Homo sapiens: one gene and its partner. The protein of the gene in region 1 purifies or fractionates together with the protein of each later gene. This does not show direct contact. Each region holds a gene or a part of one and is shown on either strand. Other genes may lie near its edges.

Region 1 (4,281 bases):
TGAACAGACACTTCTCAAAAGAAGACATTTATGCAGCCAAAAAACACATGAAGAAATGCTCATCATCACTGGCCATCAGAGAAATGCAAATCAAAACCACTATGAGATATCATCTCACACCAGTTAGAATGGCAATCATTAAAAAGTCAGGAAACAACAGGTGCTGGAGAGGATGTGGAGAAATAGGAACACTTTTACACTGTTGGTGGGACTGTAAACTAGTTCAACCATTGTGGAAGTCAGTGTGGCGATTCCTCAGGGATCTAGAACTAGAAATACCATTTGACCCAGCCATCCCATTACTGGGTATATACCCAAATGAGTATAAATCATGCTGCTATAAAGACACATGCACACGTATGTTTATTGCGGCACTATTCACAATAGCAAAGACTTGGAACCAACCCAAATGTCCAACAATGATAGACTGGATTAAGAAAATGTGGCACATATACACCATGGAATACTATGCAGCCATAAAAAATGATGAGTTCATATCCTTTGTAGGGACATGGATGAAATTGGAAACCATCATTCTCAGTAAACTATCGCAAGAACAAAAAACCAAACACCGCATATTCTCACTCATAGATGGGAATTGAACAATGAGATCACATGGACACAGGAAGGGGAATATCACACTCTGGGGACTGTGGTGGGGTTGGGGGAGGGGGGAGGGATAGTATTGGGAGATATACCTAATGCTAGATGACACATTAGTGGGTGCAGCGCACCAGCATGGCACATGTATACATATGTAACTAACCTGCACAATGTGCACATGTACCCTAAAACTTAGAGTATAATAAAAAAAATAAAATAAAATAAAATAAAAATAAATGAAAAAAAAAAAAACAAAAAACAAAAAAAGAAAAAAAAAAAAAAAAGACCCAAACAGGCCAATAACTATTAGTTATTATCTCTACTGAAAAAGTGGGACTTCCTGTTATGAATAAGGGAACTAACTGAATTCCCTGCTACCTAATTACCTTCTGTAGCTATACTTACTGACAAAAACACCATTAATTTTTTTAGATACCAATTTTTTTTAATACTATGAATCTTAAGGGAAAATGGCTTCACCTCAAAAATACTCTGTTACTTGCTTGGAAGATAGACGACTTTAAGCTGATGCTGATAAACTTGTGGCTTCCAAAGTTTTCCTTACTAATTCTAAACCCAAAAGGTGCCTGGCAGTCTCTGCTATGTCTGTTTCAAGTAACCCTAGCTCTATATCAGGAGACATTTTCCTTATAAACAGAAACATGGTAAATCTTAAGTTCCCTGCAATTGAAATGCTTGGCTGTGAATTTGATTTCATAATCAGAGCGGACTCTATAGTCTTTTCATTCAATATTCCTGCAATTAGATAACCAATCGCAGCCTAGAAACAACCTCCAAGGAGACCCAGTGACATTGCTCCCATAGTTGATGCAACAATCACCATGATGACCCAAGCTTTAATCACTCTGATGAACACTGCTCTCCTGCCTAGAGATACCACTGAGTCCAGAAGCAAGACCTGTGAGAGTGCACAGTGCCACTTCGCCCCATGGCTGAAGATGGTTTGCCCAAAATTTATTCTCATCCTCCAACAGAAAGCAGTAAAACACCAACTGCAGCAACCATTTTCTTTGGGGCTGACAATGCTATTCCCAAATCAGAAACAACTATTACTTCAGAAGGAGACCACGTCACTTCAGTAAATGAATATATGCTAGAAAGCGATTTTTCAACAACTACAGACAACAAACTGACAGCTAAAAAGGAAAAACTCAAATCAGAAGATGATATGGGGACCGACTTTATTAAGTCAACAACTCACCTACAGAAAGAAATTACCTCTCTGACTGGCACTACAAACTCCATAACAAGAGACTCTATTACCGAACATTTCATGCCAGTGAAAATTGGGAATATTTCATCACCAGTTACTACTGTTTCTTTAATAGATTTTTCCACTGACATAGCAAAAGAAGATATCCTCTTAGCTACCATTGACACAGGAGATGCAGAGATCTCAATAACCTCTGAAGTCTCTGGCACACTAAAGGACAGCAGTGCTGGTGTTGCTGACGCTCCTGCCTTTCCACGTAAAAAGGATGAAGCTGATATGAGCAATTATAATTCCTCCATCAAATCCAATGTCCCTGCTGATGAGGCTGTCCAGGTCACTGATTCCACTATTCCTGAGGCTGAAATCCCTCCTGCTCCTGAAGAAAGCTTCACTACTATTCCAGACATAACTGCCCTTGAAGAAGAGAAAATAACCGAAATTGACCTAAGTGTTTTAGAAGATGACACCAGTGCTGTGGCTACATTAACTGACTCTGATGAGAAGTTTATCACTGTGTTTGAACTCACTACCTCTGCTGAAAAAGACAAAGATAAACGGGAAGATACTCTGCTAACTGATGAAGAAACTACCGAGGGAGCCAGTATTTGGATGGAGAGAGATACTGCAAATGAAGCAGAGACCCATTCTGTTTTGCTTACTGCTGTTGAATCCAGATATGACTTCGTTGTCCCTGCATCAATAGCTACAAACCTAGTGGAAGAATCATCTACAGAAGAAGATTTGTCTGAAACTGATAATACAGAGACTGTACCTAAGATCACTGAGCCATTTTCTGGAACTACCTCTGTATTAGATACCCCAGACTATAAGGAAGACACCTCCACAACTGAAACGGATATCTTTGAACTACTGAAAGAAGAACCCGATGAGTTCATGATTTAAAAGCAACAAAAGGGATACCATGTAGAATTGTGCAATAGTCTAGCCAGCTAGCCTTAACATCTAAGAAATTTTTCCAACAAGCAAAAACCTTTAGAAATGAAAGAATGTGGGCATTTAAGGCAAGTATTCGACTCAATAAATGCAGATGCTTAGGACTACAGGTCATGTAACAGATTTACGGAAACTTAGAAAAAAAAACCGCAGTGTAAGGGTCCCCCTAGTATCACAAAGTTTCAATATTCTAACAATTACTTAATGTAAAATTTTTCGTCCTAGCCTTCAGGGAGTATGAAGACAGAGCAATGTAGGGGCTCATTTCTACAACATTTAATGATGCATATCATTTAGTTAACAGTCAATATTATACTTAAGTGAGAATTAAGGATATGAAGAGAAGCAAATTAACCTCTCCAAAACATTACCATAGCCTAAAAAGTTCTCCCAAAATGCTTGTTCTAAGCAATTTTTTCATTAGTATTTCATCAGTGATTCTCTTCTATTTAAAAAATTTTTAATCCTCATATAAGAATTAAGACAATTCAGTAATTGTTTAGCACCCACATGTAAGATACATAAGATTTATGATAGGGTTCTTGGCACATGTTAGATACAAACTAAAGCAAAATGATATTTTACAAATATGCATATTTGTCAGAAAAATGTTCTGTAAACATATACATCAATTTAATTTTCTTTCTGTTAAAATGTGTTTTCTGAATTTTTGTCCATGTTTTCCAGGTCTTAAACACTGAATATCACACTCTTCTTATGACTCTTGTTAGCGATTCAAGGACATAAATCTTCATTCTTTTCTGGCACAGACTACTTAAATGGGTCTGTTTTCACTTTGCTCATTTTTCTTCAATAAATCTTTTTGGCAAGCAACTGATTTACTGTGTGTAGGTGTGTTTGATATTCTACTACAGACTTCTCAAATTAGGAGAAATAAAGAGAAATGAAAATTCATTGTTTGTTTAAAGAATAATATAGCTCTAATCCCCAGAAGTAAAATTATTCTATAGAGATTCATAATTGTATTACACTAAAAAAAGAAATAAGAACAATGCCAAAACACCAAGTGAATGAAAGATATTATGTACGGGGGGTTTGTATAGGGATTTGCACCATTAGATAAACTATAGACTAGAATAATCACAACAGTGTGTTAAAACCCAGAAACAAATTACGAAACAAAAATTTGTTATACAGTGAAGTGGACTTCAAAAACATGGGATATAATAGTTAATCTTACTTGAACAATCAGTATTTGGGAAAAAAATATGTTGGAATAATAAACAAATTTTTAAATTCTTTTTAAGACCATACTTTAAAATAAATTCTACATGGATTAAATACTTTAATGTAAAAACTAAAACCATACAAAAACTTAGGAGGAAATGTACCTGTATATCTATCCAAATGGACCTGAGAAATGTAAGCATATATGAAAAGGTGATAAGAAGATTGATAGGTTTGACACCATGAATAGTTAAAATTCTGAAACAAAGAAAATTAACATAAAATTAAAAAGTAAATAACTA
Region 2 (3,195 bases), on another chromosome or scaffold:
AGCTAAATTTGACTCATGTTTAACATGGAATCGCACTGCTTGAATAATATGTTCTTTGGACTTTGGGCCAGTCTGGTAAAACATAAGACAACAATAACATCATTATGGTTGTATACATTTACAAATAACTCACTAAGTGCTGTTGTAAACATTTTACAGAGATTAAAGCCTTATTCTTCAGAACAACATATGAGGTAAGTACTGTTATATCCATTTTACAGATGAGGAAACAGAAACATGACGGAATTATGTGATTTACTACTAAATGGCAGAGCAGGGACTTGAAGTTAGATAATAGGACCTACCACCAGAATCTCTGAAAAAGCTGATTCCTGGGTTGAGTTTATGGTTAGCGACATCGCTTCCTGCCATAAAAACCTGTGCAACTTTGCCTTTGGAGAGGCCTGTGTGCTGGTGGGAATTAAATTCAAAAGCCAATAGCATGTTACCTTTGTGTCATAACAACCTCCAGGACTTGGGTTAGGTGAGTTCAGGTCCTCACGGCAGCAGATGGTATTACAGGGGTCACCTCTACTGTAAGGATCCTTCTTATAATCTAGGAAACAGAAATGGGGAAGAGAGTGATTATTGGCTATTTGGAGACACACTTCTCCACAGTAAGGTTTTGAGGCCTGTTAAAGCCTAGATAATCAGAGAGTGTACTCCCACAGGCCTCCTCAGCCCAGTCTGCTTCCAGATAGAGACATCTCCCTTGGCTTGTGAGGAAGGAGTAAGTCCTTGGCCCCAGGCCCAGCCTGCCCTCAAGAACCTTACACAGTGAAAAATGGATGGGAAAGAGAACCAGATAAACGTCCATCAGCTGTTTCCAACAAAATAAATACAAATTTGACTTTGATGCTGTTCATACAAAAAAAATGAGGTATTTATGAACAATGTTTTGTTTTATTAGCTGCTGTTATCCTTGGAAGGAAACTTGTGTTTGGAGAAAAATTTTAAAGGACCCTCTATGAGTTATTTCTTCTGTGTTTTACAGATGATTTTTTTTTTTTCAATTAAAAAATGTATAGACTCTTCTCTTTCATTTTATAAAGGAGGCCAAAGCTCTATTTATTGAGTATAAAATGTACAATATTAGTTAAATACTTAAATAACTTCTTATAATTCCTTCTAGTACAGAGATGATAAACTTACATGGATTCTGTATCCATAGGGAAGAAAAGGAGTTTTGAAGAATGATTCTTGAGAAATATGCTACGTACTGTTGTATCGCATGATATATTTCATGGATGCCGTATCAGTCACTTTCCCTTGGTCACGCCGGAAAATTTTGGCTCGTGGAGCTAAATCATAAGAGTAGTCCAAGCCCAGCTTCTGAACTAACAGTGGATAGCCACTCCAGTTGTAGATTTTTTCATGGAAAGGAACATTGTAGGAGGGCCAATATCCTGATTTGGAATGGAAGGGAAGTAAGGGAGGGATTGACAGGGAAGGAGACAGAAAAGGAGAGAGAGCAAAAGAAATGTTATCCATGTTCATTTATTTTGAAAATGGGCACAGGCATTTAATTACAAAATAATGTACAGAAAATAAAGCTTTGCATGTGAACCCTGGCAGCCAAACAGCCTTTTAAATTTCCTAAATCAGCACAGCTCTAGGTTATTTCATTAGGGGAAGAAGAGCATCAGAATTCTCTGGTTTTCACCCAAAATTCTTAATCTCTAAGCCAAAAAACAACCATATTCTCTATAGAGCAAAATAAAGTATAATGCAAGGTGGTCTGGGGAGCTCATCTAAGTGGATTTAGTTACTGAAATGCCAAGAAATGGTTGTTCACAGTGTGGCCCTATAAAGGAAGATGTCAAATGGTAATCATGAAGTAGTGGAAGAACATAGCACTGGGAATAGAAAGCCTGAATTCTAGGCTCAGGGCTTAAGAATCAGGTCTTAGGCAGGCAACTTCATTTGTTTTGTTTCTGTTTCTTTTTTTTTGAAAGACGTCAATGGGGAGGGAGAGGAGAAGTCCATAATGTAAGGGGATTGGGGATGATCTTTTAGGTTACATTAGGCTTTTAATTCCTTTGACTCTAAACATTTATAAAGGCTCAGCTTCATTCAAAGCTTCATAGTGTGTGAAGGCCACATAGCCTACTAGTCACTGAGCACCAAATATGTGACACAGCTCTCTCTTGTAAAAGCAGAATTTCAGAAACATCCTGGATGACACTGGCCTGGGTTACTGCCTACAGAACAGTCAAGGAATGTCTCCACCATGCAGGGTTCTCTCCCACCTCCACATTCTCTCCTGGCCCTTTTCTGCCTTTCTCCTTTGTATTGTTGTACAGGACCTCCTCTTTAGGGGTGAGGTTACTGAGACAAAAAGAAAATGATAAGACATTCAGCCTTGCTAATTCTGAGACAGAGCCAGCATCAGAAGAACTGAGATATGGATGACATTGAAATTAAAGAAGAAAAACAGATTTGTTGCTAAAACATATCTAGGTTATATAGGCTCAGGAATTAGATTGCCTGGATTTGAAGCCTGGTTCTGCCATTATTAGGTATGTGACCTTGAACAAATTGCTTATCCCCTTTGTGCCTCAGTTTCTTCATCTTCATTAACTATTCAGCATTAAGCATCTTCATAAGCATGAGCATGAAATGCATTCAGATGGAGTGCTTACAATAGTATCTAATACTTGGTAAACATTAGATTATTATATTTCTCTTTGTGAAAACAGCTCAAATGAATAACGAAAATGTCTACTTTATACTTCACATTTCATGAAGCTTCGTGATTTAAAACAGAGCAACTTGGCCTGGTGCAGTGGCTTGTGCCTGTAATCCCAGCACTTTGGGAGGCTGAGGCAGGTGGATTGCTTGAGCTCTGAAGTTCAAGACCAGGCTGGGCAATATGGCAAGACCCTGCCTCCACTAAAAATATAAAAAAATAGCCAGGCATTGGGGTGCACACCTGTGGTCCCAGCTACTCGGGAGGCTGAGGCCCGAGAACCGCTTGAACCCGAGAGGCAAAGGTTGTAGTGAGCCGAGATCACGCAGCTGCAATCTAGCCTGGGTGACAAAGCGAGACCCTGTCTCAAAATAAATAAAGAAAATAGAGCAGCTTGTTTAATCTCACAAAAACCTGATGATGTATAAGTATTACCATCCCTTTTTTAAACAGAAGAAACAGAGTTTCAGAGAGGTCAATTGTCTTCCTTGGCTCACAAAACTTGA

Evidence for each region.
Region 2: the proteins of CABS1 (region 1) and PLBD1 purify together in Homo sapiens (affinity purification with mass spectrometry; one large-scale study listed by BioGRID and IntAct). This does not show direct contact.

Annotation. Positions count from the first base shown.
Region 1 is NC_000004.12:70,333,488-70,337,768, forward strand, and holds CABS1 (calcium-binding and spermatid-specific protein 1), read left to right. Parts: upstream 1-1,493; 5' UTR 1,494-1,552; coding exon 1,553-2,740; 3' UTR 2,741-2,859; intron 2,860-3,478; 3' UTR 3,479-3,629; downstream 3,630-4,281.
Region 2 is NC_000012.12:14,505,713-14,508,907, forward strand, and holds part of PLBD1 (phospholipase B-like 1 precursor), read right to left. Parts: intron 1,407-3,195; coding exon 1,221-1,406; intron 557-1,220; coding exon 450-556; intron 1-449. UniProt on the Homo sapiens protein: In view of the small size of the putative binding pocket, it has been proposed that it may act as an amidase or a peptidase.